Linked DNA regions of Homo sapiens. The protein of the gene in region 3 interacts with the protein of the main gene of each other region in a pairwise test. Each region holds a gene or a part of one and is shown on either strand. Other genes may lie near its edges.

What was found.
Region 1: the proteins of SCAMP5 (region 3) and PAXIP1 interact in a two-hybrid assay, tested with the Homo sapiens proteins (one study listed by BioGRID).
Region 2: the proteins of SCAMP5 (region 3) and DNAJC5 come close enough for resonance energy transfer, tested with the Homo sapiens proteins (one study listed by BioGRID).

The regions. Positions count from the first base shown.
Region 1 is NC_000007.14:154,944,111-154,951,136, forward strand, and holds part of PAXIP1 (PAX-interacting protein 1), read right to left. Parts: intron 5,381-7,026; exon of another isoform or gene 5,188-5,380; intron 3,981-5,187; exon of another isoform or gene 3,894-3,980; coding exon 3,793-3,893; exon of another isoform or gene 3,788-3,792; intron 3,664-3,787; exon of another isoform or gene 3,583-3,663; intron 2,743-3,582; exon of another isoform or gene 2,704-2,742; coding exon 2,569-2,703; exon of another isoform or gene 2,483-2,568; intron 2,478-2,482; coding exon 2,402-2,477; intron 2,384-2,401; exon of another isoform or gene 2,316-2,383; coding exon 2,255-2,315; exon of another isoform or gene 2,250-2,254; intron 511-2,249; exon of another isoform or gene 55-510; coding exon 39-54; 3' UTR 1-38.
Region 2 is NC_000020.11:63,898,114-63,905,139, forward strand, and holds part of DNAJC5 (dnaJ homolog subfamily C member 5), read left to right. Parts: intron 1-7,026. UniProt on the Homo sapiens protein: Acts as a general chaperone in regulated exocytosis. Acts as a co-chaperone for the SNARE protein SNAP-25. Involved in the calcium-mediated control of a late stage of exocytosis. May have an important role in presynaptic function.
Region 3 is NC_000015.10:75,005,546-75,012,571, reverse strand, and holds part of SCAMP5 (secretory carrier-associated membrane protein 5), read right to left. Parts: intron 4,912-7,026; exon of another isoform or gene 4,860-4,911; coding exon of another isoform or gene 4,844-4,859; intron 2,682-4,843; coding exon of another isoform or gene 2,632-2,681; intron 781-2,631; coding exon of another isoform or gene 733-780; coding exon 726-732; intron 1-725. UniProt on the Homo sapiens protein: Required for the calcium-dependent exocytosis of signal sequence-containing cytokines such as CCL5. Probably acts in cooperation with the SNARE machinery.

The DNA.
Region 1 (7,026 bases), on a different chromosome or scaffold from region 3:
CACCGCAGGAGTCGACATGCACGGCAGCCTAGACGCCATCAGTTAAACTTATATGTAGGCTTGTTGAGGAAAACGACTTTCAAACACAAGGCAAAAGAAAAACATGAAACCAAGGGTTCCAACATTCATCATCCAGTTTCAGAGACACCCTTGAAGGAATGCTACAGCCTCTTTCTTACCCATTCAAACCAGTCGCTCTGCTGCATACCCACATCACAGGAGGCCCTCAGCCCCGACACACAGGCTCACTCAGCCCGGGGACATCAGCACCTGTGCCAGCTCCGCAAGGTATCCACCATGCGGCCAGAACTGAGGCCCAGCAATAGCTGAAATGTCCTTTAAATTAACATGTACAACACACAACCCCCAAGAGCTGACATCCCCAAAGCCCCACCACAAATAGCTGACTCCTACTTATACCTGCAGGAGCAGGTAGTGACCTCTGCAATTCTAAACCGTCCACTTTGGGCAAAATTCATCAAGCTATGGATATGAAAAAAGGCCCCCAAGGTAATACTCATAAGTCTCCTGTATGACTTTTAAAGCAATTTCTTCTGAAAGTAAATGTAGTGTAGAACAGGCTTTCACAAATACAAACATGAATGTTAGGAAAAAGTCTGGAAAAAATGCAAGAGTACATGTTGTATAAAAACCAAATGCTTATAGCATATCTGTAAAAATTTAACAGGCCTCTTATCATTCCTATCAGTAGCTCCTACAATAATTTTCTAATAGATGGCGGTATGGAATACAGCAAGCTCTGGTATGAATGGTAAGAGCGTTTCTGCACCAAGCCTCATTCCAACTAGACAGGCTATTTATTTATGGCTAAACATGACATTGGATTCTGGGACTGAGGCAAATTTTACTTCTTTTTTTTTTTTTTTTTTTTTAAAGACAGAGTTTCGCTCTTGTTGCCCAGGCTGTAGTGCAATGGCGCGATATTGGCTCACTGCAACCCCTGCCTCCCAGGTTCAAGTGATTCTCCTGCCTCACCAAGTAGCTGTGATTACAGGTACCCGCCACCATGGCCAGCTAATTTTTTCTATTTTTAGTAGAGCCAGGGTTTCACCATGTTGGCCAGGCTGGTCTCGAACTCCTGATCTCAGGTGATCCACCTGTCTTGGCCTCCCGTGCTGGGATTATAGGCATGAGCCACCACGTCCGGCCAAATTTTACTTCTTAAAAGTGCTTTTCTCTCAGTGATATCAAGGTCTTCTGTCTACTATTATAACCATAAGCTCTTTAGCGTTAAGAGGAAAATGTTTGATAAATGTAATTAACTGGATGAATGTCAGTGTATTTAAATGTAAATATACTTAAATGTAATTACCTGGATGAAACAGGCACACACGAAGAAAAAAAAACTCGGCAAGGATGGGTATCATTCTGACCTCTGCGCCTTACTGAAGCAGTCCTATCCCAAACACAAAATTCCCCTGCTTAAGGAAAGGTCCACTGAGGTTGACACTGGTCAGAGGTGGCAGAGGCTCCCACCCTCACAGAGAGGAGGAGCTCCAGCCTCATTGCAGGAGGCCCAGGGAGAAGTCCTGAGAACAGCCCTGAGAGAAGGTGCTCTGCAATGGGAAACGGAAGTGGAAACAGAATTTTCCCATAAGGACCTGTAAGGCATGTTTTGCTTCACTGATAGGCTGTTCCTACATTAAAATAATAATTCAGAGATTTTTAATAAGGAATTCAAATAACAGATGATGAGCTTTATTTTTTCCTGAATGTCTGAAATAGAAAAAAGCCTAGGTGTCAATATTCTAAAGACTGACCTTTGCATTTTCCTGACATGTTGATGAAGTATTCATTCTGCCGCTTCCATTTAGTAGTAATTTATCTCCCATCCCAAAGTTCCTGAGTACAAAGACTATATACGAACTAAATTTCATTTGGAAAACTACAAACTCAAAGGTGAGCTGATAAAAAGAAACATATATTTATTTTTGCAATTATTTTCTATTTTATCTAATTGTCAAATTCTTTAATACCTCCATAAACTAGACAGTATAGATCCTTTCTAATTAACATCACCTATTAAAACTGAACTCTCAGTAAGTTAAGAGAATATTTTTACTAGCAACTCAAATGAATATTCTGAAGAGAAAAGAATTGTTCACTGCATAAATCACAATAGCAAAGAAAGGAAAAATGGCTTGCAAAACAGGAAAGGTACTGCCTTATTAACCTGGGAAATCCATTTCATATCTAACCCGTCTACTTTTTAATTCTCTTTTGGAAAGGATATGATTCATAGTCCAGCGTTTGAGTGAGCACTCCAGTCAGAACGAACTCTGCATTGTGAACATCTGAACAGGGTGGAAACAGACACTTTAGTTAGAGATCCACTGCTGTGCGTGCACACATACTCACACAGGTAAGCGGGGAAACGTACCTATGCCTCTGGCAAAATATTCTCGGCATAAATGAAGGTCATTTTCACAGGATATTAAAATTATTTCCGACAAACTCTAAGGAAAAGAAAATGAGTTTCTCAGTGACCGAACGCTGAATGTGATACAGGGCAATGACGGACTCGCTGGCGGACTCCACTCTACCCACCGAGTTCTGCTTGTGCTCCATGAGCTTCCGGAAAGATGGCTGCTTGGATAACACCTTTCCTCCTGCACACTCTACGATTGCCTTCATAGTGGAAAGACTTGGGCAGATTCCAGGTGTGATGTAAAAATATTTTGCCTAAAATTAAATGAAAATATATGTATTATGTTCTTAAAATGCTTTAATTTTTAGAGTACATAATTCTCATAGATTCTGCCCTGAGATTTTTGACAAAATTTCAAATTTTATGACATTATGAAGGTACTATTCTCCTACTAGCACTCAATCTGAAGTGGAAGAGGAATCCAGCTATGTAAATTTGGAATGTAAGCATTTTCACATGTTAAGTATGCCTGAAGATGATTTAAAGTAACCAGAACTTAAGTCCCTAAAACAAAGTGTTTTGTGAATAAGCAAGAATATTACAAATATTTTTCACAATTTCTATACAATTTTAAATCAGCATTATATTTCACCACACTTATCTGCCCAGCAACAGCCTCTGGCATAGCATGCTGCCTGGCTTATATCCCTTTTCTTTATTTTCTCCATATTATTTGAACTCAGAGCAGGAAATGATATTGATGCTTAAGATTTAATTATCTAACAAGATTGCTCCTGAGGATACCACAAAATACTATTCTGTCTGAAACTGCAAATAATTTCTAATTCCTGTTGACTCCTTAAGAAGGTTAAAGAACCGATTATCTTTATTGATTTACTTAGTTCTTTGGTACAAAAAAAATTCCTAGCTGTTCTAACACTTATCTAACATTTAAAAATCTTTTAGTACTGAATTATATCTATGCACACACTGAATATTTTCCCAAGTATCTTCTCCAGCTGAATATACATTTACTGACAATAGTACGAAGTAAGCGATGTCCTCTAAAGATTTATTAAAAGCAGAAAAATGAACATGCCTCTTAACCAATTACTCAAAAACCTATTCTTTGAATAACTTATTTCTCATAGATGTATTTATTAAATTTGTGTACTTATTTTTAAACATTATAGTAAAGAAAAGTTCTCTAGAGATGTGCTGTGGTTCACAGGAGGAAGACCTCCAGTGGCAATGTCCAAGAAGGAAGCCAAGAGGTAAATGGGATGCAGGGTGAGCCCAGCTCCCCTGGAGGCGCACTTCCCACCAAATCACCTGGTAGTTCCCTTGAGCAGGTCCGTGTGTTATGCTTACTTGGACTGATTTACTTTTCCCTTAAAGTGTACCTTAAAGAGTGGAGAAACGTGTGCCCGTTTTAAGGATTCTTCCAAGCTGAAAGAGAAAAGTACTTCTGCCTCAGCATCTCGGAGAATGTAGTTCTGCTCATCTGGAAAACAGAACAGCACATACTCTGAAAAGTGTGGACACGTGAAGTGTGGCAAGTGTGACCCACAAAATTCTCGCCCATATTCAGGTACATAATATTACAGCTACATTTACCTGTACAGCCTTCGGATATTTAAATGTCACCATTATATTTCATTTACTTCCCTCTAAAAACAGCCAGACCAAAAAGACAGACAGGTATTTTTTCTCCTAGATCAGTGGTAATTAACCATTTGGGGTCATAAACTCTTGAAAAAAACGGGCTGGGTGTGGTGGTTCATGCCTGTAATTCCAGCACTTTGGGAAGCCGGGGAAGGAAAGCTGCTTGATGCCAGGAGTTCGAGAACAGCCTGGGCAACACAGTGAGACTTCATCTCTACAGAAAAATTTTAAAATCAGCTTGGCATGGTGGCATGTGCCTGTAGTCCCAGCTACTCGGGGGACTGAAGTGGGAGGATCGCTTGAGTCTGGGAAGTTCGAGGCTGTGGTGAGCCATCATTGCACCACAGCACCCCAGCCTGGGCAACAAAGTGAGATCTGGTCTCAAAATAATAGTAATTTTTTTTTTTTTAACAACAAAAATGTAAAAAAAGAAAAAAAAAATTACTGAAAAATATGAACCCTCTTCCCATAGCTGCTCCTCCCCTCTTTACCCCCCGACTATTTTAGGAAGTTCACCAACTTTCCAAGCCCGCAGATCTCAGGTTAAAATCTCCAGTCCTAGAAAGACAAGCTTCAAATAATCCCATCCAAGTGTATATTATATATATATATGTTATATATATACACTAACTCCTCAAGGACTTGTAGGACATTGGAGTCATTTGGCTCATAATCAATTATGTGAATTACCAAACTTTAAAGATTTACCAAACACACATTCAAGTATATAAAAGTATACAGCAATTTATAAAGGATAGTTTTATCAATTTTTAAAGACTTCTGACAATTATTAATAATTGACAGATTTTCAGTTTTCATAGCAACATTTTAAGAAATGTGTCAAAAGGTAAAGATCACAAAATGTTTCAATCTTCCTATAAATATGCCTCATATTCAGAAAACCATTTCTCCTCCGCCGCCATTTCCTACCAACCATACAGCATAATAAGGCAGCTCAAACCCAATAATATATACATCAAAAGCAGAAAACAAGGAAAAGTGATTTGGGATTGGCAAACTGGGGTTGACAAGATGATACATATTTTAGGATTTGTGGGCTATGTATTATTTCTCCTGCATATTCCTCTTCTCTTTTTTAAGCAATATTTAAAAAATGTAAAAACCATTTTCAGCGTATGGACCAGTTTGCTGACTGCTGGGCAGGAGCAACCACATCATGACAGAAATGCAGGGATCTGTTCACCAACGGCCAGAAATACAAAATCAATCCCTGAGTCAACCAGCAGATAGAAAGGCTGCTTTTTAGGTGAAAGGAGAAAAAGAATGTCTAAAATTTGGAAAAACAAAAAATGATGAATTAAAAAAGGAACAAAAAAAGTACTGTTACACATGAGATGGTATATTTGAAGTGTTACTTTCAAAGCTGATATGCCTTCTGAAGAACTTGTGTGAGATCACCAAGAATAGTTAATGTTTATGATAGAGAAAACACCACCGGGCGCGGTGGCTCACGCCTATAATCCCAGCACTTTGGGAGGCCGAGGTGGGCGGATCTCTTGAGGTCAGGAGTTCAAGACCAGCCTGGCCAACATGGTGAAACCCTGTCTCTACTAAAAAATACAAAAAAATTTAGCCAGGCGTCGTCGTGGTGGGCGCCTGCAGTCCCAGCTACTAGGGAGGCTGAGGCAGGAGAATGGCTTGAACCCAGGAGGCAGAGGTTGTAGTAAGCCAATGGCACCACTCTACTCCAGCCTGAGCAACAGACTGGGTGAGACTCTGTCTTAAAAAGAAAAGAAAGTAATATTGAAAAATACAGTAATACAGCTAAGACGATCCTGTCACAGATGAGACATTGAGATTTTGGTTTTTTCAAACAGGGTTATGTTACCTTAGTAGTAGCAATGTAAAGACTCAACCTGAACATTAAACTTTTCATGGAAGTACAAAAGAAATGAGTATCCTAGAAATTGATTATAATATTGATGTCTCAAATTTTATGTAAGTTACACATAAATATAAAATCCCAAAAACATGCACCTACCAAAACAGGTGGAGAAAAGAGTGTTTTCAACAAATGATGCTGGAACAACTGCACATCCATATGCAATAAAAGGAAGCTGGACACAGACTTTACCCTCTTTTAAAAAAAACTGACCCAAAAATGGAACACAGACCTAAATGTAAAATGCAAAACTATGAAACTCCTAGAAGATAACACAGGAGAGAATCTAAGGGACCTTGAGTTTGGCAATGACTTTTTAGATACAACACCAAAGACACAATCCATGAAAGAAATAAGAAGTAACCTGGACCTCACCTATTAGAATGGCCAAAACCCAGAGCACTAACACCAGCATATGCTGAGGAGGATGTGGAGCAACAGGAGCTCCCATTCACTGCAGGTGGGAATGCAAAATGGCACAGGCACTTCAGAAGACAGCCTGGCGGTTTCTTACAAAGCTAAACATACTCTTACCATATGATCAAGCAATTGCAACCTTGTTGATTTACCAAAAGGAGTTGAAAACTTACGTCCACACTAAAACCTGTACATGGATGTTTTAGCAGCTTTACTGCTAACTGCGAAAATTTAGAATCAGCTAAGATGTCCTTGTGTAGGTGAGGGGCTGAACAGATACATTCTGACAATGGAATATTATTTAGTGCTAAAAAGAAATGCTTTATGAAGCCATGAAAAGACATGGAGGAAGCTGGGACGTATATTGCTAAGCAAAGGAAGCAAATCTGAAAATCCTATATACTGTATGATTCCCAATATGTAACATTCTGGAAAGGGCAAGACTATAGAAAGAATAAAAGATCAGTGGTTGCCAGGGGTCAGCAGGCAGGAAGGAATGAGTGGGTGGAGCACAGAGGATTTTCAGGGCAGTGGAACAACTCCATATGACGCTGTAAAGCAAAATCATGTCCTTACACATTTGTTAAAACCCAATGACTGTTCAAGGCCAAGAGTGAGCCCTAATGTAACTATGGACTTTGGGTGACTGGCC
Region 2 (7,026 bases), on a different chromosome or scaffold from region 3:
AGACCAGGTTTCTTCTAAGTATTTGGCATCACCAGGAAGAGCCCTGTACAAGGTGCTGGTGGTTTTATCCTTAGAGCCCAGATGTGAGGTGCTCACGTGTGTGCCTGGGGTTAGCAGTTGGTGTTTGTTGAATGAATGACTAAAATGCAGTGGGGCGGGGAGTCATGATAAGGTAGAATTTTATCTGAGGTGGAGTTTGCTTCTGAAATCAGGCAGTAAGGTGAATGTGATACCCAGTTAGGAGTATGTAATGCTGCAGGTAAACTGTAACAGCAAATGAAAGCAGTATTTCTCCAGGAAGGAAACAGACCCCTGGGTCCTCGGGCTGGGTTGGAAAAAGCCATTTGTAGAGAAATGGAACATGGTGGCTAGCCCTGCACAAGACATAGAGAAGAGACCCTTAACACTCCAGTTATCTCCAAGTGGGCAGTTAGAATGAGTGCTTCTAGGCCGGGCACGGTGGCTCACACCAGTAATCCCAGCACTTTGGGAGGCCGAGGCGGGCAGATCTTGAGATCGAGAGATCGAGACCATCCTGGCCAACATGGTGAAACCCTGTCTCTACTAAAAATACAAAAATAGCTGGGTGTGGTGGCGGGCACCTGTAATTCCAGCTACTAGGGAGGCTGAGGCAGGAGAATTGCTTGAACCCGGGAGGCAGAGGTTGCAGTGAGCTGAGATAGCACCACTGCACTCCAGCCTGGGCGACAGAGCGAGACTCCCTCTCACAACAAACAAACAAACAAACTGCAGTGCTTCTAAGGTGAGACTCATCGTGATGTTCTGATTAGAACGTTCTCGTGCCACAAAGTCCTGAGATGTGTCCAAGAAGCACCGTCTTCTGTCAGACACACCTCCTGCCCCGCCATAGGCCTTCCCACTGTGGCAGCAGAATCTGTGCTAGGCCTTCCTTCGTGAAAGAGGACAAGATCAGGGCTCACGTGACTGGGGCCGCTGTGACTCTGAGCCTCTGCGTTCTGTCAGATGAGGGTAGTGGTGCTTCCCCTGCGTCCTGCTGGGAGAAAAAAGGAGGCAGTAAATGAAAGGTGTCTCATCACCTGCTTCCTAAATAGAAGGGACAAAGAGGCTGAAAAACAGTAATAGTCTTGTTTTATGAAAATGCCACCCCTAATCTAGGAGCTGGGACTGCCATGCCAGGACCCCTCAGATAATGACATCCCTGAAGAGGATTAGCAGCTAGTCTGTTATCAGTCACAGGCAGTTCAACCCAGAAGATTTAAGGATTAGATTACCCAACAACCTTGAGTGTAGATTTTGTCTCTCATCACCCTTTGCATTAACTTTGGGTGCATGTGTGTTAATGAGGAAGTGTGTTCTGCTTTATTCTTGGTACATCACAGACATTTAATAGATACAGGTCATTAGAAATAAAAATTGTTTTAACTTGTATGAGTTTTGCAAGCATTGATATTTCAAATTGAAATTGCAGAAATTAGGACAGCATTTCATTTTCTTTTGTTTTTTTGAGACGGAGTCTCATTCTCTCACCCAGGCTGGAGTGCGGTGGCGTGACCTTGGCTCACTGCAACCTCTGCCTCCTGGGTTCAAGTGATTCTTCTGCCTCAGCCTCCCGAGTAGCTGGGACTACAGGCGGTCGCCACCACGCCAGGCTAATTTTTTGTATTTTTAGTAGAGACAGGGTTTCGCGGTGTTAGCCAGGATGGTCTCGATCTCCTGACCTTGTGATCCGCCCATCTTGGCCTCCCAAAGTGCTGGGATTGCAGGTGTGAGCCACTGCGCCTGGGCTTTTTTTTTTTTTTTTTTTTGGTTGGGGGACGGAGTCTCACTCTGTCACCCAGGCTTGAGTACAACGGTACGGTTTCCGCTCATGGCAACCTCTGCCTCCTAGGTTCAAGTGATTCTCCTGCCTCAGCCTCCTGGGTTGCTGGGATTACAGGCGCCTGCCATGACACCCGGCTAATTTTTGTATTTTTAGTAGAGATGGGGTTTTGCCATGTTGGCCAGGCTGGTCTTGAACTCCTGACCTCAGGTGATCCACCCACTTTGGCCTCCCAAAGTGCTGGGATTATAGGCGTGAGCCACTGAGCCCAGCCCCAAGTTGGTCTTGAGCTCCTGGACTCAAGTGATCGTCCAACCAGCATCTCATTTTCTAAAGAAAGAAGTACTTAGACCAGGTTTGGGACATGTCTCTGAAAATTCTGGGCTGGTGCAGTGGCTCATGCCTGTAATCCCAGCACTTTGAGAGGCCGAGGCAGGCGGATTGCTAGAGTCCAGAAGTGAAGACCAGGCTGGGCAACATAGCAAAACCCCATCTGTACTAAAACTAGAAACAATTAGCCGGGTATGGTGACATGCAGCTGTAGTCCCAGCTACTCGGAGGCTGAGGTGGTAGGATCACCTGAGCCTGGGAGGCTGAGGCTGCAGCAAGCCATGATTGCTCCACTGCACTCCAGCCTGGGCGACAGAGCAAGACACTGTCTCAAAAAAAAAAAAAAAAAAAAAAAGGAAGTTCTGTATTGATCAATAATTTCCTCCTCAGGACAGACCTGCATATGCCACAATTTAACTTTGTTGCAACATCATTCTACATTTTGCATGAATGGTTTCAAAAAACTTATTTCTATGACAGAGAACTTTGTCATTTATTCTTGACATATTAAACCTGAGTGACATTTTTAAATTTTTGTGTTGTGTTGTGAGTGCTTAGTGAAGATTCCTTGAATATGGATGTGAATGAATCTTATTTTTCATGGGTTTATAATTGTATTGTCCCTTTAAATATTCTACATTGAACATGTATCACCAGCAGAAATAATCATTTACGAGGTGAAGTGTCCAGAGCCATGTAGTGTCTGCATTGCTGTGTCCAGGGATTCTTTGTTTGTTTGAGACGGAGTCTCGCTCTGTCATCCAGGCTGGAGTGCAGTGGCACGATCGTGTCTCACTGCCGCTTCCACCTCCCGGGTTCAAGTGATTCTTCTGCCTCAGCCTCTTGAGTAACTGGAATTACAGGCGTGTGCCACCACGCCCAGCTAATTTTTGTATTTTTAGTAGAGATGGGGTTTCACCATGTTGTCCAGGCTGGTCTCAAACTCCTGAACTCAAGTAATCAACCCACCTTGGCCTCCCAAGGTGCTGGGTTTACAGGCATGAGCCACTGTGCTCAATCTGCGTTCTGAGGCATTCTGTGCCTGTTATGAAATCATGATGCTGGCAGGTCGGAAGATGGAATCGACTTCCCAGCCCCATCGGCTGTGCCCTGCCCTCCTTGCTGTCTCTAGAGCGCGGCTGACTTCGGGGAGAGCTCTCCCTGCCCTGTGCCTCTATTTTTTCACCAGGTAGGGTGGAAATGTGTTCTAGTGAAACTGCAGAACGAAAATATCCCGTCTTACTCTTGACCCTTGAAGAAGCAGGAGCTGAATTCAGGTGCCAGAGGCTGCGTCCGCGCGCTCCACATCAGTCTCAGAGTGGAGGCGAGCCCAGGCCAGAGGCCTCTACCCCGGACGAGGCTGCAGGTGCCTGACGGGAGGAGTGACTGCAGCTCAGCAGAGGGAGTGTGTGGAGTGTGCGGCCCTGCCTGGCTTTTATTTTGCTCCTCCTGTTATTGGGAGGGATTAGCAGCAGAGCGAATGTTTGGATCTTTGCTGAGCAGTCCCATCGGATTTTTCTTTATTAAATAGGATTGTGTTTTATTGTAAGAAGGTTTCCCTAAGACAAATAACGAAGGAAATTCTGGGTCCAGGAGTACAGACTGTAGCTTCTGTCATCTCTTGCCAAGTTCGTAGCCCTCAGATGGTGTCTGTCTTTCCCCTTTGCTTGCGGGGCCTTTTACCACAGCACTTTGGTGTTCTTTTAGCTGCTGCGATAGGACTAGCTGTTAAAATCTGAGATTTTACATTTTTGCCAGTCGCAATAAATTTTGTTAGTTCTTTCTTGATGTGTTCTTTAAAATAATAATGCTTTTTTTTTTTGGGTGGGGGACAGAGTCTTGTGCTGTCGCCCAGGCTGGAGTGCAGTGACGCGATCTCGGCTCACTGCAAGCTCCGCCTCCCGGGTTCACGCCATTCCCCTGCCTCAGCCTCCCGAGTAGCTGGGACTACAGGCGCCCGCCACCACGCCCGGCTAATTTTTCGTATTTTTAGTAGAGATGGGGTTTCACCGTGTTAGCCAGGATGGTCTCGATCTCCTGACCTTGTGATCCGCCCAGCTCGGCCTCCGAAAGTGCTGGGATTACAGGCGTGAGCCACTGCTCCTGGCCTCATCTTTTTTTTTTTTTTTTTTTTTTTTGAGACGGAGTTTCACTCTTGTTTCCCAGGCTGGTGGAGTGCAACGGTGTGATCTTGGCTCACCGCAACCTCTGCCTTCTGGGTTCAAGTGATTCTCCAGCCTCAGCCTCCTGAGTAGCTGGGATTACAGGCGTGTGCCACCACACCCAGCTAATTTTGTATTTTTAGTAGAGATGGGGTTTCTCCATGTTGGTCAGGCTGGTCTCGACCTCCCAACCTCAGGTGATCCACTCACCTCGGCCTCCCAAAGTGCTGGGATTACAGGCGTGAGCCAACGCACCTGGCCTCATCTTGTTTTTTTTTTTTTTTTTTGAGACAGAGTCTTGCTCTGTCGCCCAGGCTGGAGTGCAGTGACTCAGTCTCGGCTCACTGCAAGCTCTGCCACCTGGGTTCATGCCATTCTCCTGCCTCAGCCTCCCGAGTAGCTGGGACTACAGGCACCCGCCGCCACGCCCAGCTAATGTTTTTTGTATTTTTAGTAGAGACGGGATTTCATCGTGTTAGCCAGGATGGTCTCGATCTCCTGACCTCGTGATCTGCCCACCTCGGCCTCCCAAAGTGCTGGGATTAGAGGCGTGAGCCACCGCGCCCTGCCACATCCTGTTTTTTTTACAACAGGGTGTCACTCTGTCTCTCACCCAAGTTAGAGAGGAGTGACACAGTCTTAGCTCACTGCATTCTCCCAGGCCCAAGCAATCCTCCTATCTCAGCCTCCCAAGTAGCTGGGACTTTAGGTATGTGTCACCACAGTTGACTAATGTTTTAATTTTTGTAGAGATGGGGCCTCCACATGTTGCCCAGGTTGGCCTTCCTGGGCTCGATCCTCCTGCCTCAGCCTCCCAAGGTGGTGCATGCCTACAGTCTCAGTAGATTAGAATCACCCTAACCCTCAGTAACTGAGATTGTAGGCACGCACCACCTCACTGACTCACCTCAAACTCTCTTTTTTGAGATGGAGTCTCTGTCACCAGACTGGAGAGCAGTGGTGCGATCTTGGCACACTGCAACCTCCGCCTCCTGGGTTCAAGCGATTCTCCTGCCTCAGCCTCTGTAGCAGCTGGGACTACAGGCATGCGCCACTACGCCCGGCTGATTTTTGTATTTTTTAGTAGAGACGGGGTTTCACCATGTTGGCCAGGATGATCTCGATCTCTTGACCTCATGGTCTGCGCACCTTGGCCTCCCAAAGTGCTGGGATTACAGGTGTGAGCCACTGCGCTCGGCCCATCTCAAACTTTTAATAAGGCTCTTCGTATAGAAATTTTTAAAAAATTAAAAACATTTTTGGCCAGGCTTAGTGGTTTAAGCCTGTAATCCCAGTGCTTTGGGAGGCCAAGGCAAGCAGATTACATGAGGCCAGGAGTTTGAGACTAGCCTGGCCAACATGGCGAAACCACGTCTCTACTAAAAATACAAAAATTTGGGCAGGTGCAGTGGCTGACACCTGTAACCCCAACACTTTGGGAGGCTGAGGTGGATAGATCTCTCGAGTTCAGGAATTTGAGACCAGCCTGGGTAACATGAGGAAACCCCATCTCTGCAGAAAATACAAAAGTTAGCTGGGCGTGGTGGTGCATGCCTGTGGTCCCAGCTACTCGAGAGGCTGAGGTCAGGCTGAGGTGGGAGGATCCCTGGAGCCTGGGAAGCGGAGGTTGCAGTGGGGGATGAAAAAGAATACCCCGTGTCCAAATAGCAAAACACTCTGAAATGAGGCAAACCGTGGTTTGTTGAACAGGTGTTCTGGGACAAGGTTGCCGAATATGCATTAGCCGTAATCCCCAGGACAGCCATGCAGGGTGGGTCTTAAACAGTTTTTTAGATTCTCGAGTATAAAGGTATAATATTGAAGAATAAGCACAAATAATGTCATCATACATGTTAAAGTGACAACACAGGATTTACAAAATTACCCTTTTTTCCCCAAAATTACCTCTTACGATGTGGTTTCTGTTGGTGCTGTTTTCTCTTGCATCATCCCGCCAGGTTGGGTAACCCTAACTGATTGTCACCAGCAGACCAACAGACAGACTCACAGCATCCTTCTCCCTGGTGTGAGCACTGCTTAATTCACATTTATGAAAATACTTTAAGACAAGGGCACTGTAACTCACATAGAATCTGAAGTGGCCTTGAACAGGGAGCTGGTCCAGCTGCCTCTTAGTGTGTCTGACCTCCAGGTGGGCGGACTGAGATGCGTGCAGGTGTTCATGGTATAGGCATCCTTGTAAACCTGCTCTGGTTAAGGATAAATAGGCAAAGTTGTGCTAATGCTGTTCCTACAGCAGCCTTTGCCCTGGACTGACTCCAGAACAGCTGGCTGACTGACAGCTGCCTCCCAGTAAAGCCTTAAACAGGCTTATCTTATATTTTTAAAAGGCAAAGGACAATAAGGCAGATTAATAAACTGTGGGGGTTTTTTTGTTTGTTTTTGTTTTTCTTGAGACAAAGTCTCGCTGTTGTACCCCAGGCTGGAGTGCAACGGCGCGATCTCGGCTCACTGCAACCTCTGCCTCTCGGGTTCAAGCGATTCTCCTGCCTCAGCCTCCAGAGTAGCTGGGATTACAGGTGCCCGCCACCACGCCCGGCTAATTTTTGTATTTTTAGTCTAGACGGGGGTTTCACCATGTTGGCCAGGCTGGTCTCGAACTCCTGACATCAGGTGATCCGCCTGCCTCGGCCTCCCAAAGTGTCAGGATTATAGGGTGAGCCACCGTGCCTGGCTTTTTTTTTTTTTTCCTGTCTTTTGTGTATGTGATGG
Region 3 (7,026 bases):
CCGGCCACTCTGCTTTCCCCACCCAGCCGTCCCTACCTCCCCGGGTCAGCTGTGATGATCCCAAAGTAGCCAAAGGCCCTGAGACAGTGTCACTCAGAATAAAAAACAATGTCACCTTGACAGACAGCATTTATTATTTTTTAATTCTGAGTGACACTGTCTCAGGGCCTCAAGGTACCACCCTCTCAGTGGGGGCAGCTCCAGGCAGAAGAAGCGGATGTGTGAGAATCTACAGACGTGGGTTCCAGCCTCCACTCAGCATTTGTGCTCTGGGGCAAATCATCGCCCCTCTCTAGACCTCAGTTTATTTGCTGGAGTGGGGGCTGGGCTACACGGTCCCTAAAGTTCCCTCCAGCTCTGGCATTCTACACCTCTGAGCCTTCTGAACCAGATAAAAAAGGCCTCAGAGTATTAGAAAGCAATAGAGACAGAGGGGAGGAGGGCTGAGCCACTCATGCAGCTAATCAGGCAGATGGACAGTAAGACAAGGACATCAAGGTGCTCAATTCCTGGTCCATAGGACCAAAGATCTGACAGAGGGCTAGACAATGTCATGTTGAAGTTCTCAGACAGGCCTCAGTGGAGAGAGTGGGGAAAGCTTGGGGACAGTAAGATGGAAAGAACCTGGCCTCCAAAGACTAGGGGAGATAAGGGAACCAGGAAGAGGGCCATCCACGCTATGCTCACTGTCATGTCCTACCCACACAGCCTGCCCCTCTCCTTACCTGCCATGATGTTACCAGCTGGCCCAGTGGCCTGCCCACACCTCTTTGTCCTGAACTGCAAGGAAAGAAAAGCCAGAGAAGGATGAGATCAGGGCCACACCCAACCCAGTCCCTCTCTACTCCTCATCTGGGCTGCAAGCTCCCCAGGACAGGACCCAGCACATACTCCCACAGTGCCGTGAATGCAATGGAGGCAGCTCCCCTCCTCCCAGAGCCACCCTTCCACCAGCTGCATCTTACCAGCTGCTCCCGCCCTCTGCTTCAAGGCACAAAATCTACTCTCTGAAAACCCCATCCAAGGGTAGGAAAGGAACCTGGGAGGGGATCCCATACAGGGAAAGCCAAGTGACATTCTATTCCTTGACCTTGAATTACAGACTGAGCCTCGGCCTTGGTCACAGGCTAGCCTCCCTTTGCTCCTTTTGCCTTTGTTCATTTATTAGGACACTTATATGGTGCTGGAAGAATGAGTGAGACAGATGTGGTCCCTGCTCTCCCCATGAAACAGTCAATCACCTCTGCAGTAAATCATACAAAAGGCAAGCACAGCCACCGTGAAAACATACACATCATGTCCTGGTGATCTAATCTGGTCTGGAGAGGCAGGGAAATTAAATTTTTTTAATTAAAAAACTTTTTTTGAGACAGGGTCTCTCTCTGTTGCCCAGGCTGGAGTGCAGTGGTATAATCCCAGCTCACGGCAGCCTCAGCCTCCCCAGGCTCAGGTGATCCTCCAAGCGCAGCCTCCTGAGTAGCTGGAACTACAGGCATGCACCACCAGGCCCAGCTAATTTTTATATTTTTTTGTAGAGATTAAGTTTCGCCATATCGCCCAGGCTAATTTGAATTCCTAGGCTCAAGCAATCCACCTGCTTCAGCCTCCCAAAGTGGTAGGATTACAGGCATGAGCCACTGCACCCAGCCTCAGGGAAATTAAATACAAGTGGTAGTAAAAACCTGAAGCATGAAGAGGAGTTCCCCGGGCAAAACAGCCTTCTAGGCAGATGGGAAAGCATCGTACAGGGACAGTTCCTTACTAGGAAGGAGCTTCACATTTTTTTTTTTCTTAGACAGGGTCTCACTCTGTCACCCAGGCTGGAGTAAAGTGGCACTCCTGGGCTCAAGCCATCCTCCTGCCTCAGCCTCTTGAGTAGCTAGACTACAGGGACAGACTACCATGCTAATTTTTTAATATTTTGTAGAGAGGAGGTCTTGCTGTGTTGCACAGCTGGTCTCAAATTCCTGGCCTCAAGCAATCTTCCCGCTTTGGACTCCCAAAGCACTGGGATTATAGGCATGAGCCACCCATCATAAGGGAAAGAAAGCCACTATGGCCAAAGCAGAGTGCAAATGAGGGGGCAGCAGATGAGGCTGGAAAGGCAAGGTGGGCAGGATGTGCTTCCTGAGACCCTTAGGAGACAAGTTTGAAGGGGTCTTGGTTTTAAGGAGTAGGGGAAAGGGAGCAATTGGAAGACTCCCTGCCCACTTAACCCCGAGTGGATGGTGGAGACCCATCATGACAAGCCTGTGTGAGATGAGGCGGAGGTTCCAGGGGAGGACGAGCAGCTGTGCTAGGGACATACAGGGTAGAGACGCTGGGGGACACCTGGACAGGGCGTCTTATAGGAATCTGGAGGGTACAAACATGCTCTGCTCCTGGGAGTTCAGCAGGAGGCCTGGCTGACCCATGCTAAGTAATCACTGGCAAGTTAAGGCCAAGGAAACCAAGCAGCAATCACCTTGTTAGAACAGTGACTTTGGTGGACATTTATATAGTCAACAGCAGAAAATGGTCCACAACCAAGTGCTAAGGCAATGCAACATTTAAAAGCTGGGCAGAAATTTGCTTAAAGTTTTGGAACAGGAAAAACTAAATCTATGGTGTTAGAAGTCAAGATAGTATTACCCTTGATGGGGCAGCGACTGGGGGCCCGGCATCTGTTCTTGGTCGGGGTTCTGGATACACAAAGGTATGGATTTTGTGAACATTCTCCAAGCATACAGTTACAACTTGTGCAATCTCCTGTGTGTTAGACTTCCATGAGAAGTTTGCTTTAAAATAAAAACTTCAGGCTGGGCATAGTGGCTCACACCTGTAATCCCAGCATTTTGGGAGTCCGAGGCAGGAGGATCACTTGAGCCCAGTAGTTCAAGACCAGTCTGGCCAACACAGTGAGACTCCATCTCTACAAAAAATAAAAAATTAGGCAGGCACGATGGTGCGTGCCTGTAGTCCCAGTTCCTCAGGAGGCTGAAGTGGGAGGATTGCTTGAGTCCAGGAGGTAGAGGCTGCAGTGAGCCATGATTGCACCACTGCACTCCAGCCTGGGCAACAGAGCAAGACTGTCTCAAAGGAAAAAAAGCACACACACACACACACACACACACACACACACACACACACAAACTTCTAGCATTCCAGTCAAATTCTTCTGGACCTGATTAAAAGATCGGGCAATTACAATCTTCGGACTCTTTTGTGATATGGGATCAAATACAGATACAAAAACCCAGTAACATCTACCACAAAAAGAGAAGAGAAGGGTATGATAGAGACAATCAGGAAATGATACCCATACACAGGTGCATTAATTGCGGCACTGTTTTGAATAACAAAGGATTAGAAACCATCAATAGGGGACTGATTAAACCAATGGTAGTCATACAATGGACTGTTCCGCAGCTATTTTTAAAAATGCTTTGCAGCTGTTAAAAATTTTAAAAAGAGGAAGCAGTTCTCTGGGTACTGATATGCAAAAGTCTCCAAAAAGATGAGTAGTTAAAAAAAGCAAGATGTACAACAGTCTGTATGTTATACTTTTCATATTAAAAAAAAGGAAGAGAAGATAATAAGAATATATTTTCCTTTTAACCTAATAATCCTGCTCCTGTTAGTCATTTACCCAGATATAAGAAATGACAAACACACACGTTATTCGACATGACACTATTTGCATTAGCAAAATGCTTAAAGCAACCTAAATGTGACTATTTGAATATACGAGGTGCATCATACAATAGAGTATTACACAGATGTAAAAAAGATGCCAGCCATGGTGACTCACACCTGTAATCCCAGCACTTTCAGAGGCGAAGGCAGGAGGATCACTTGAGGTCAGGAGTTTGAGACCAGCCTGGCCAACATGGTGAAACCCCATCTCTACCAAAAAAATACAAAAATTAGCCAGGCATGATGGCATAAGCCTGTAATCCCAACTACTCAGGAGGCTGAGGTGGGAGAATCGCTTGAACCCAGGAGGCGGAGGTTGCAGTGAGCCAAGATTTCGCTGCTGCACTCCAGCCTGGGTGACAGAGTGAAACCATGTCTCAAAAAAAAAAAAAAAAGAATAAAGATGAGCTCAGTAAACTGCTGTGGAATGCTTTCCAGGATATATTAAGTAAAAAAAAAAAAGCAGAGCACAAAAAGTGTAAATCATATGCTACCCCTTATGTAAGAAAGGGGAAGTAAGAATGCACATATGAATTTGCTTATTTTTGCAAAAGAAACACAGGAAGAATCAACCAGAAAGTAATGAAATAGTCACCTACATAACGGAAGGGCTACGATGAGTAGAGAGACTTCCATTCTTTATATACTTATTAATAAGTTTTTTTAATATACTTGTACACATAAAATGACTTCCATATTTCAAAAACTTAAACCAAAAAGAAAAGCAAACTCTAAAACTGAAACAAAAACAAATCAAGCTAACTATACTTTAAATTGATAACAATCTCACAGACAAGAAAAAAAAAAGAGCCCAAGTAACTTTTGATCACAGTAATTCTGGGTTCTCCTATGTTCTCCTAGAAAGATAAACCTCAAGGGCAAAAATAACTGCAAACAGGCCGGGTGCAGTGGTTCATGACTGGAATTCCAGCACTTTGAGACACCAAGGCAGATGGATCGCTTGGGCCCAGGAGTTCGAGACCAGCCTGGGTAACACAGCAAGACCCCCGTCTCTACAAAAAATACAAACATGGCCAGGCATGGTAGCTCACGCCTGTAATCCCAGCACTTTGGGAAGCCGAGGCGGGTAGATCACCAGGTCAAGAGATCAAGACCATCCTGGCCAATATGGTGAAACCCTGTTCTCTACTAAAAATACAAAAATTACCTGGGCGTGGTGGCATGTGCCTGTAGTTCCAGCTACTCGGGAGGTTGAAGCAGGAGAATTGATTGAACCTGGGAGGCAGAGGTTGCAGTGAGCCGAGATCGTGCCACTGCCCTCCAGCCCGGCGACAGAGCAAGACTCCGTCTCAAAAAAACAAAAACAAAACAAAAAAAAACATTAGCGGGACATGGTGATGTGCGCCTGTAGTCCCAGCTTCTCATGAGGCTGAGGTGGGAGGATCACTTGAGCTCAGGAAGTCGAGGCTGCAATGAAGTGTGATTGCGCCACTGCACTCCAGCCCGGGCGGCAGAGCAAGACCCTGTCTCAAAAAAAGAAAAAGAAACTGCAAACAAGTCATGAATTTTAGCAAGTTTACTCTTACTGCTGGTACTGCTGTGACGACTCTAAAGCTTTGCCCGTATACTACAGGAGAGGGCAAATGAATCAGTGTGCTGATTATTTGGGGAAGGTGGTTTCTCACTGTAGGAGATACAATTCAGACCGCGGAAAGGTAAGAAAGAGCCTTGTGGTGTTGGATTCAAAGCGGAGGTATCAGTATGAACACAGAATTTTAAAAATATATATGGCTGGTCCCAAGCCAGGAAAAGGAAATACAAGGTTAGCCTGGAACATCTTGTGGTATCATAAAGAAGAAAGTACTCAATAACTAATGGAGGCAAGTCAAAAGGACACAAGAACCAGTCTGAAAGGGCTACCACCAACCAAATTTGGGACAATTAGACTATCAAAAGTAATAACCACGTGGATTTTTTTCTCTCTTTTTTTTCTTGAGACAGAGTCGCGCTCTGTTGCCCAGGCTGGAGTGCAGCAGCATGATCTCAGCTCACTGCAACCTCCGCCTCCTGGGTTCAAGTGATTCTTTTGCTTCAGCCTCCCGAGTAGCTGGGATTACAGGCACCCGCCACCACACCCAGCTAATTGTTTTTTTTTTTTTTTGAGATGGAGTCTCGCTCTGTCACCCAGGCCAGAGTGCAGCGGCGTGATCTCGGCTCACTGCAAGCTCTGCCTCTCTCCTGCCTCAGCCTCCCCAGTAGCTGGGACTACAGGTGCCCGCCACCACACCTGGCGAATTTTTTTGTATTTTTTTAGTAGAAACGGGGTTTCACCGTGTTAGCCAGGATAGTCTCGATCTCTTGACCTCGTGATCCACCTGCCTTGGCCTCCCAAAGTGCTGGGATTACAGGCATGAGCCACAGTGCCCGGCCAATTGTTGTATTTTTAGTAGAGACAGGGTTTCACCATGTTGGCCAGGCTAGTCTTGAACTCCTGGCCTCAAGCCATCCACCCACCTCAGCCTCCCAAAGTGCTGGGATTACAGGTATGAGCCACAGTGCCCGGCCCACATAGATTTTTTTTATTATTAATCCATGAGTCCAAAGTGACATTATTATTTTATTTTTTAAAAGAGAGGGAGGGCCTGGCTCAGTGGCTCACATCTGTAATCCTAGCACTTTGGGAGGCCGAGGCAGGAGGATCACAAGGTCAGGAGTTCGAGACCAGCCTGGCCAACACAGTGAAACCCTGTCTATACTAAAAATACAAAAAATTAACTGGGTGTGGTGGCGGGCGCCTGTAATCCCAGCTACTCCAGAGGCTGGGGCAGGAGAATAGCTTGAACCCGGGAGGCGGAGGTTTCAGTGAGCCGAGAGCACGCCACTCTACTCCAGCCCGGGTGACAGAGCTAGACTCCATCTCAAAAAAACAAAGCAAAAAAAAAAAAAAAAAAAAAGGGAGGCCGAGGCGGATCACTTGAGGTCAGGAGTTCCAGACCAGCCTGGCCAACATGGTGAAACCTTGTCTCCACCAAAAAATACAAAAAATAACCAGGCATGGTAGCACGTGCTTGTAGTCCCAACTACTCGGGAGGCTGAGGCAGGAGAATTGCTTGAACCCGGGAGGCGGAGGTTGCAGTAAGACGAGATCGCGCCACTGCACTCCAGCCTGGGCGACAGAGTGAGACTCCGTCTCAAAAAAAGAAAGAAAGAAAGAACATCATGTGCCTCCTGCTATGCTGTGCACAGAAGGACTCAAGGTCATGTATGAATACTGTTGCCAAAAAAAGGTTTAATCTGAAAATAATTATGAAAAAACAATCCGACAAATTCAGATTGTGGGAAATTCTACGAGACAAATGTTAATGTCATGAAAGACAGAAATTGGCAGGG